2 linked regions of the Homo sapiens genome follow. The protein of the gene in region 1 interacts with the protein of each later gene in a pairwise test. Each region holds a gene or a part of one and is shown in the gene's direction. Other genes may lie near its edges.

What was found.
Region 2: the proteins of DEFB112 (region 1) and VWC2L interact in a two-hybrid assay, tested with the Homo sapiens proteins (one large-scale study listed by BioGRID).

The regions. Positions count from the first base shown.
Region 1 is NC_000006.12:50,042,832-50,048,089, reverse strand, and holds part of DEFB112 (beta-defensin 112 precursor), read left to right. Parts: intron 1-4,288; coding exon 4,289-4,515; 3' UTR 4,516-5,258.
Region 2 is NC_000002.12:214,413,430-214,418,953, forward strand, and holds part of VWC2L (von Willebrand factor C domain-containing protein 2-like isoform 1 precursor), read left to right. Parts: intron 1-684; 5' UTR 685-764; coding exon 765-1,154; intron 1,155-5,524.

The DNA.
Region 1 (5,258 bases):
CTGCAACCACCGTCTCCCGGGTTCAAGCAATTCTCCTGCTTCAGCCTCCGGAGTAGCTGGGATTACAGGCTCCCACCACCACGCCCCGCTAATTTTTTGTATTTTTAGTAGAGACAGGGTTTCACCATGTTGGCTAGGCTGGTAGCGAACTCCTGACCTGAGGTGATCTACCTGCCACGGCCTCCCAAAATGCTGGGATTACAGGTGTGAGCCACCACGCCTGGCCAAGGCAAAACTATTTTTATCAATCACTACTGTTCAAAATACTGATATTTTTGGATATAAAAAGTATATTGTTATATGAAAAGAATGATAAAGGTGTTCTGTTTATTTGAAAGCACGGTTTAATTAAGATAACTCAAAAAGGCAATTGAGCAACAAAAGTCTAGATAAGGGACTGGGAACTTAGTTTTAAAAGAATTCTTTTTGACTAAGTTTCACTGGATGTCAGCATGATGTTGGAATGGGACTTTTCAATGCTCCTTCCTTTACAGAATCACTAATTTGAACAATTATCCATGCACGAAAATGCCTTCACAAGAGCTAAGGAAACCAGGTGAGAGATTACAGCACTTGGGTAGATTACAGAAATAAGAAAAGACACATTAAAGAGGGTAGGAAAGATAGTGTCACATTGCTCATGGACCTCTCTCCCAAGCCTAGATAGCACAGCCTGGAGACAGATACCCTCCCTGTGAAGGAAAGAGAGGGAAATGACCATAGAAATTAGCCTTGGACCCAACACTGGATGCCCTTTCTAAGTAGAACCCAGCACCGAGCAGGCCCCCATGGCCTCAGACTTCAGACCAGTACCTGAAGACTGAGCTTCCAAGTCTGCTCTGGCACCAGGCCGGATCTGACAGCCTCTGGCTCTAGGCCAGCCCATCAAGTCTCAGCTCACTGCCCCTCCAGGCCTGCCCAGTAGCCCTAGTGCTAGTTCAAGCCCCACAGACTCAGGCTAGGCCCAATAATCACACTCGGTTTCCAGAGTTTCTCTAGAGCTAGGCTGGCCCCAGTGTTCCTGGGCTCTGGATCCCCCCAACACCAAGCTGACCCCCAGGTTTCAGGCTTGTCCAAGAACAAGGTGAGCTCCACAGCCATAGTCATCAGGGAAGGACCTGTGGACTCAGCCCCGAGGCCAGCCTCGGTGGATACAGGCTCCAGGTTCACTCAGTACCTGGCCAGCTCATGTAACCCTAGGCTCACCTTTATTCCAAACCTATGTTTTAGGACCCATAGCCTTTAAAGGTTCTTCCCTCTTGTCCATTACACCACTTTACCAATCACTTCAATGGCAAAATTTCCTTCAGTTCTTGTATATCAGCTTAGTAGAGTCATAGAGTAGAATACAAACATTGCTACATATATAACTAGCAAAGGGCTTAAATCTAGAATATATTTTAAAATTCTAATAAATAAATAAGAAAATGCTAGGTAATTCAGCAGAAATATGAAAAAAAGACCTAAGCCACTTGAAAGAGTGAATAAACAACCTCTTTAAAGTGCTCATCCTCACTTGCAATCAAGAAAATGCTAATTTAAACCACGATAAACTACCACCATACATTCAACAGAACATTCAAAATTTGAAATCTATCCAACAGAAGATTATTCAATATGCTTCAAGAAACAGTACAAGAATGTTAAGAGCAGCCAAATTCTCCCTGTAGCAAATAACCTATATGATCATATAAAGTTTATTAGATAAAGTGAATGCTATGTATTAATGAAAATCAGTACTGCAAACTACATCCAACCACAAAGTTCAATTTTATGAATATAAATTTAAAAATCCAGAAACAAACAAACTGTATGATTCTCTCTAAGATACACACACACACACACACACACACACACACACACACACAGTGCTCCTCAATTCATGATGGAATTATGTCTTGATAAAGACATTTTGAGTTGAAAATATCATCAATTGAAAGTGGATTTAATACACCCTACTGGCAGAACATCATAGCTTAGCTTACCCTGGCTTAAACATGCTCAGAATACTTACATTAGCCTACAATTGGGCAAAATCATCTAACATAAAGAGTGTTTTATAATAAATTATTGAATATATCATGGAATGTGTTTGATAATGTACTAAAAGCATAAAACAGAATTGTTGTATGACTATTTGTAATATTGTATCCACTGAACGTATGTCTTTTTTGCACCATTCTGAGGATGAAAAATTGAGTCAAATTATTGTAATTCGGGGACTATCAGTATAAACAGTCATGTGCTGCAAAACAGTGTTTCAGTCTATGTTTAGATACATAAATACTTACCATTATGTTACAGTTGCCTAAAGTATTCAGTCCAGTAACAGGTGCCATTTTGTAGATCAGGAGTAATAGGCTATACCTTACAGCCTAGGTATGTGATAGGTTGTACCATCTAGATTTGTGTAAGTACAGTTTATGGTGTTCGCACAAGGACAGAATCACCTAATGGCACATTTCTCAAAACATATCCCTGTCCCTAAGTGACACCTGATTGTATACACATATGTACACATTTATTTGTATGTGTGTATATATATATTTGTGTGTATATCTAGATTTATACATATTTTATGTGTATACATGTTCAAAAGCAGGCATAAAAAATGCATAATTGAGGTATACAAATATTAATATAAAGCAAAGTAAGAAAGTTAGTGTTTAATTCAAGACAGTGATTACTCTTAGGGAAGAGGGAGGGGGTTATGATGTGGCATGAGGGTGTGAAGCTTCTAGTAATATCTTGTTTCTTGATGTAGGTAGTAATCTCATGGCTATTTCATTTACAGTGCTACATTAGGCTCTGCATTTATATTTTGTGTTCTTCTCTCAGAAGGAAATACCCCTTGTGATATGTTGCTTTGTGAACAGAACTATGCTGAGGCTAATCCAATTATGAAATGTACCTTTCATATCTCAGGGTAAATATGGGCTTGAAATATTATTATTACCATTATTCATATTACTATTACTATTTGCAAATAAAATACAATTATTAGCAAAGATAACTGCATAAAGTGCTGTCTCCTAGATGACTGAGTACACATCACTGCAAATCCAGAGTATGTTAAAAGGAATATCCTCTGATAGTGTAGTCTCAAAATCCTCAGTTATTTTAAATTCTTGCTGCAAAATTTGTGGGTAATATTACTACTTTATATAAAATGATATATATGTATTTTATTTAAAAAGATGGACACGAAAATGGTTAATTACAGAATAAAAAGGTTTTTGAGATGAAAGCATACTTACAGACATCAGTGATAAGGACTTGGTCATTTTTATCCACCTTCTGAAATATGTCCAGCAATGCATGCTTATATTAGTCGAGTAATGGTAGATATGTACTTCCTAAGACAGTCTCCTCCAGAATTTTTATTAAACTTTTTAATTAATTTAAAAATTATTATATAGATTCAAAACCTGGCTCTCCAGTGATATGTGCTATGTATCTGTGGAGATACAGAGAATAAATGAATATCTGCAACTACAGATCAGAACTTCTGTTAGTGACAGAGAGACCTTCTATCTAGGTACATACATCATTCCTTATACTTGTGGAAGTTACAAAGTCGAAGAAATTATGCTGTAAAGTGAGATTAGAGACATTTTTAAAAATTTTCTATAGCATTGGAAACTTCAGGATGAAAGAGAAAAATGGCAAAGTAGAACTAGAAAATTATGAGCCTTGCTGAAATGTTCACTATGTCCACAGCTTGTGGTTATTTACTATCTCCGTATTCTAATCACCCCAAAGTGTCTATTTTTTTAGCAAAACTTCTCTTGTGCTTGGCTCTAGGGTGCAAATCCAAGAGGAGATGAGATATTTAAGGAAAATAAAATTGTATCTTTCAATATTTTAGAACTGCTCAAGTCAGGTTAAAAAGAACAATGGAATCTTAAAAAGGAAGAGAACATTTACCACAGAACAGTACTAAGAATAAATAATAAATGAGAGGATGGAGATCGTCCCACTCATATCCAATGGTTCTAGTCAATGTACAAGACAGACAGAGGAAGATTAATACATTGCAAGCCCTTCAGAAATCCCTTATTGAGTCACTACAGAATTATTTAAACTGCATAAGAATGGAACCTCTACAGTTTAGGAACTGTATACTTGTTGGTTTCCTTGATTTTCTCTGATATGGACAAAAAAATTAAAGCAAATATCCATTTCCTTTATTTCTCCTCTGTTGTCTGTGATTACTCCCATGTCTTCTTTTAAATCTTGGGAGTTCCCACCTAGATTACTAATTCCAGCTGTTCTTGCCTTCTTTCAGCCAGAAGTGAAGGGCACCATATCACCTTTAGTAGGTGGAAGTCATGTACAGCGATTGGAGGTCGATGTAAAAATCAATGTGATGATAGTGAATTTAGGATTTCATACTGTGCAAGACCTACAACTCATTGCTGCGTGACAGAATGTGACCCTACGGACCCAAATAATTGGATCCCAAAGGACTCAGTAGGGACTCAAGAATGGTACCCTAAAGACTCACGTCATTGAAGAAATCCATGCACAAGAAGATGATACATCTGAATGAAGTCCTCTCATTATTTCATCACTTCATTAATGACCTATAATTTCCATGCATGCATACCTATAATGAATAAATAATTAAATAAAATATATTTCAGCTGGACATTTTTATAAACATTGTGCTTGCTTAGAAGAAAGAATCAGAATACAAAGCAGGGATTTGAACTCTGGAATAGAAGCAGCGTGGAGAAGAAAATCCATGATGGGACCGCTAAGTTTAGTGAGATTCTGGGGCCAATTCCTTATTTAGTGTGAAAAGCATATTATGAGTCATTAGTGAGGTATTATCAAGAATTCTTTGAGGAGACTCAGGAGTGGGGACAGAGTTGATAAGAGATGTGACCCCTGAACTAGTAAAAATCGTTGCAAGAAATTTGAAGGATTATGAAATCCTCATAACTTTCTCATATTGCTTATACTTCCTGGTTATACTTTTTCTCTCTTTTTTGAAAGAATTATGAAAATAAAAATAACTGATTTTTTTTCCAAGAATAATCTCAAAAGGTAGAATAGAGGGAGACTAGGTTGAGGAAGGAAAAGAAGAATGGTAAATCCCTGTAGCTTGTGGCAATAACGATAATGTGAAATTATGATTAACTTTTTTGTTTTGTTTTGCTTTGTTTCATGTTTTTAATGTTTCCACATATTATCAGATGATTCTTATCATGCTACTTATTGGTGTCTTAGTAAATTTTAAGTTTTTAAAAAAT
Region 2 (5,524 bases), on another chromosome or scaffold:
TGTATTATTTATTATTTCAAATTTTCTTTCTCTTAATCACTATGGAATAGTTATGTTGTTTTTGTTATCAACTTTATTTCAAAAATCCAGACTCACATTCACTTAAACAGGTAACTGATGTTGACGCCATTGTTGTTCTTTAATTATGGGCATAAATAAGTAGGAAATCCTTTATAGTAGCTCCTTCCTAAATATAATTTATATTCAACTGTTGGTTTATTCCCTTTCCTTTAGAATTAGATTTTTTTCTCACTAATCTCTTGAGTTGACACAGATAATTATAACATATGTTCCATCACTGACTAGTCCAGTTTAAAGAATAATAGAAAATGTGAGTTCAAATATTCTTGAGCTATTTGTAAGTTACTCCTTGGATCACATTTTGGGGCTCAGTAAAACCATTTCTTTGCAATTTAGATAAAGCCAGACCTATGAAATTCAGAAGGAAAATTCAAGCTGAAGGTTCCTATATAAAATAATCCAAAAGGACAAATTTTAATGCATATATTGCCAAGTATCAACTCTCCAAACCTCACAATAAGGCACAGATAGTTGCATGAACTTAGTCTATTTGAGGACTTAGTATCTTCAAATTGATCCCAAACAGTTTAAGAGCGTGGGCTTAAATGAATCTATCTTCACTTTATATATGTCAAATTATTCTTTTTAAATATTTATTTTCAGCCTACCCCTCTTGTATTCCCATGGAAGGAGCTGAGTATATTTAATATTAGGAGCACATCCAGAAGTCTTTGAAGAGGGGGATGGCTCTTCATATTCATGAAGCTTGCATACTTCTGTTGGTCATCCCTGGATTGGTCACCTCTGCTGCTATCAGTCATGAAGACTATCCTGCTGATGAAGGTGACCAGATCTCCAGTAATGACAATCTGATCTTTGATGACTATCGAGGGAAAGGGTGTGTCGATGACAGCGGCTTTGTATACAAGTTGGGAGAACGATTTTTCCCTGGGCATTCCAACTGTCCATGTGTCTGTGCTCTAGATGGACCTGTTTGCGACCAACCAGAATGCCCTAAAATTCACCCAAAGTGTACTAAAGTGGAACACAATGGATGCTGTCCTGAGTGCAAAGAAGTAAAAAACTTCTGTGAATATCACGGGAAAAATTACAAAATCTTGGAGGAATTTAAGGTATGCGTTACCCTCCATATTTATTGAAATATCAACTTTTCATACCACGTGCTTAGTACATTGCTACATTAAAGTCAGAGTTGGAAAAATGTACTTTAAAATTTCCCTTTAAATTATACAATTTGATTCTAATTACCATAAGTAGCACCATGGTCAACAAATGGCCAACTGGTTTGTTGATCATATTTGTTAAGTTGCACAATAACCTTTATTTTTTTTCCCAGAAGTATTTGGGGCATACCTAACACCTTTTATTTTTGCCCTTAAACATTTCTTCTCTGTTATTACAAAATATGTTTTCTGATGGGAACAATTTTGTGTATAGTGTATGTGTCTCCTAAATTAATTTTTTAATTGTGTCAGTTTTGTGTGTTGCTTATTAGCCTGTATTTGAAGTCATTTAACAATATAGTCTAGAATTATTTGTTTATTGTGTGGAAAAGCTACAGAGATATACTTCTTAGCTGTGGTCCTCATATTAAGAAAATGCATTGGGCCTACTTGTGGTCAAGCAAGATCCCCATTCTGTTCTCTGCTCGCTGGATTTTTTGCTTTCAGGATTCCACAGAGAACTGAATTTTTATCACAATCCATGTAAAGAGTAGTAAAAAAGACTGTAATTTTTTTCAGCCTACCTGGTATTTTTTAGTTTTTCTTTTACGCTTGCGTCATATTTTCAAAGTAGCTTAGAGTTCATTTTTATCCCTTATTGAACTTTCTTTTCCCCAATGGCTAGTTTTAATTGGGATATCCTACAAGCCTGATCTGAACCCTGAAGGTATGAATACATGAAAAATGTCCACCTTAAATGTAATGGCAGTTTGTGCCTGGAGTGTCTGTCATACTGATGGCTTTATATAAAATGTTCCCATTTCATCTAACCAAGTTCTGTGATGAGGTGCTCAGAACCTTAGAGGTAAAAGCAGATATAGCTAGTTTTCAGTGTGGGTGTTTATGTATGAGAGAAGACATTTCCATTATTAGCACTGACCCAACTTCTCTCACCACAAGGGTCAAATGGTGCCAGAAATCAGTATGTAGAAAAAAGGTCTCAACTGATCATCATTAGCATAATCTGTGTATTCATAGTTAATTGTATTTAGTTCATTATTAACCTGGAATGAACCAGGTTAGCGGTTCAAGCCAGTTCTGATTTACCCAAGAATACCCAGTCATTGGAACTAGATTCCTTAGGACAAAAGGGAAATTTTAATTGTGACATTCAACTTCCTTAGACATGTTATTCTCGACTTTTGTCTTTCGTGTATTATTTTATTGCACAAAATTAAGAAGTAAAAGCATGAGAGTCTAGTAAAAGTATCATTGTTGACACCAAATAATAGTTGAGAGTAGAGTACATTTATTAATGGTTTTATGATCTCTAAAATATTGTATATATTTTGACATTACCTATTTTTAATGTCATCTTAATGGAAGTAAGTAGAAGTACTCAACACACTTGATTCTAGCAGTCATATCACCCTTTTCTAACCTGCATTTATATCTAGACTAGAATACAAAAGGGTATTGTAGGAACAGCGTTTCATAACTAGCACAAATAAAAACATAAGTTTCTGAGATTTATATAATTTGGTAATCTGTATTTAATAAAGAAAATATTGTCTAACTTAACTCACTATTGAAAATGCTATAGTTTTCCCTCTATTTATTAGATTTTACTACAAAGATAATAACTATGTTACCATGTCAAACAATATAGAGGTATTTAAAGAAAAAGTTAATAATTTCTGTACCCCTTCTCGTTATAACCCTACTATAATCTAATTAATCCCTACTACTTCTTTCCTAATGTATGATCCATTAATATGCACAGCTTTTTCACCTGGCTTTTTGTGTCATAAAATTTTTGATGTGATTTTTAAAATAATAGATATCACTTTTTTTAACAAGAATTTAGAGTCATAAAGAGTTTTAGAGACTATATAGGGCAAATGTGTCAGAATGAGAAACTGAGACCAAAAAAGTATAAATTACTTATCCAAAATTGTCAAGTTATTTATCTTAATTCTAAATGCTGCCATTCTAACATACTATATGATCTCTCAAAGCAGTTTGTCACTAAGGTCAGATAGACTTGGATTCGAATCCCAAATTCATCACTTGGATATAAATTTTTGAATGGAGTTCTTAAACTTTTTGATCCATAGTGGTATTGACCATAAAATAGCCATTGTAATAATCACTTTCCTTAGGAGGAGAGGTTGGAAATTCTTAATAACATATAATTTCTCTGAAGTCACTAACCTTGTGATGACGGGTACACAATAGGTATTAAATAAATGATTGTCCCCTCCTTCTTAACTCTAATATCCAGGGATTTACTCTAAATTCTAAATTCCTCTATGGCTTTGCCTACATTTTATAATGAAAGTTCAACTTTAAAAGACTTTCAAATGAAGAATTCTCATACCTTTTTAAAATGCTCTACTTATCCCTATGAACCATACAACTCTAAGTAAATATTAGCCATAATCTGTCATCTTGATTCTCTTCCAACTCAGCTTGCAAGGAACAAGTCATTAATTATTAAAGATGCATAAAACTTTCATATAATAATGTTGATATGTCAATTAGGGAGGTTGTATTATGAGATAATCTTCACATAAATATATTCATCCAACAAGCATTTATCAGACCGTTCAGTAGATAAGATACTGTAGACGTACTTACAATTGAAAGTAGGATATCTAGAAACCAAAATCTCTGCTCACAAGAAAGACATGATCGATGTGAAGAGAGAAGGGGGAAAAAGCAGGTAAAAGTTAAGTATATGATTATGAAATCCCAATATAACTCCCAAGAGATTGTGATGGCAGAAGCTTATCAAAATAGTATGAGGCTTGGTTAAGCAAGAGATTTGTCTTCAGGATGCTAACCCTATACATCTTGTAGAGCTGCCTGTTCTTCAAGAAGTACTTGAAATTGATCTGGGAAGACTGAAATTCCAAAGACGAAACTGCCAGAGCAAAATCAGAGATTGGGATGAATACAGTCTGCAAAGAGGAGGGAGATGGGTATAATTGGAAGCTAGATATGACTAAAATGCTATCCTAGTAAGAGGCAAATTCAGATATGTGTCGGTGGAGAGTGGATGGAAGGGCCTTGAATACTGGGCCAAAATATTTAGATTCATCTGAAGAATAATAGGAAATAAAATGCGGATTGTTCTGTACATAGATGACCTAGTTAAACATAAATAAAAATGAATGTCCTATATCCAAGCACAGAATTGAATAGAAGTAAAGAGAAATTAATAGTGGAGGAAGGAAGTCTGTTGCAGAAAAAAAGAGAATGAGGTGCACAAGCACAAAGACATTCAGGACAGTTTTCAGGGTAAAATCTAATTTCCCTGCTGTAGCCTAGATTCTACTCATCAACCTCTCCAAATCCCTCAAACTCTTGGTGGCTTTTTTTCCCTGTGTGTTTGCACTGCTGTTCCACAGTATGGAACACTTTTTCAACATTGCTCCCTGTTTAAATCCTACTGGACCACTTCAAGGCTCCATTTAAATCTCACCTCAACTGGAAACCCCTCTCTGTCTGTCCTACCTCATATCTCCCACACTGTATCACTCCTTCCGTATGTTCCCACGGCCTGCTATACACACCATCACTACAAGAACAGTAACTGTTGTCTGATACTGTGAAGAGCTTTATGTATATTATAACACATTTTATTTTACAATAACACTGTGAGAATTATACTTTTATTAGCACTGTTTTACGGATAAGAAAACTGAAGCAGCAGAGTGTAAGTAACTTGTCCAAGACCATACAGCTGGAAAGAGGAAAAAGTAGGACTCCAAGCCAGGCAGCTTGACTGCAGAATCTAAGCTCCTCACCACTTCTAGTGATCTACCCCACAGCAATAATGTAATACATCACACTGCAATAATATTAAATCATGTAAAATATAATATGAAATAATATCATATGAAACCACTCGTCTCTTCCATTAGTCATTGAACCCTTCGAGGCTAGCGACACTGTTTTCTTTTTTCTTTTCCCCTCTATTCCCAACACCGTGTGAGCTATGTAACAGTCATTTAATACCTTTTTTGATGAATAGCATACCAGGTCAAATTGTAATCAAACCTATAGGATAAAGAAGTTAGAATTTCTTTAGAATGATTTAGTTTCTGTTTATGTGTTGATCTCTTCATTTTAATTAAAGAAGCACTGAAAGTTGAGACAAAAAATGCTCTTTGGGCAGTTAAAATGGCACACATTGTTCTCTTATGATAAGACTGCCTATTTTCGTCCTGCCTTTACTTTCTTCCTCTCTCAACCCCTTCCTCACCAAGGGTTGTCTTGGATTCTGTCTCCATCCCAGCATCGCAATGACTACC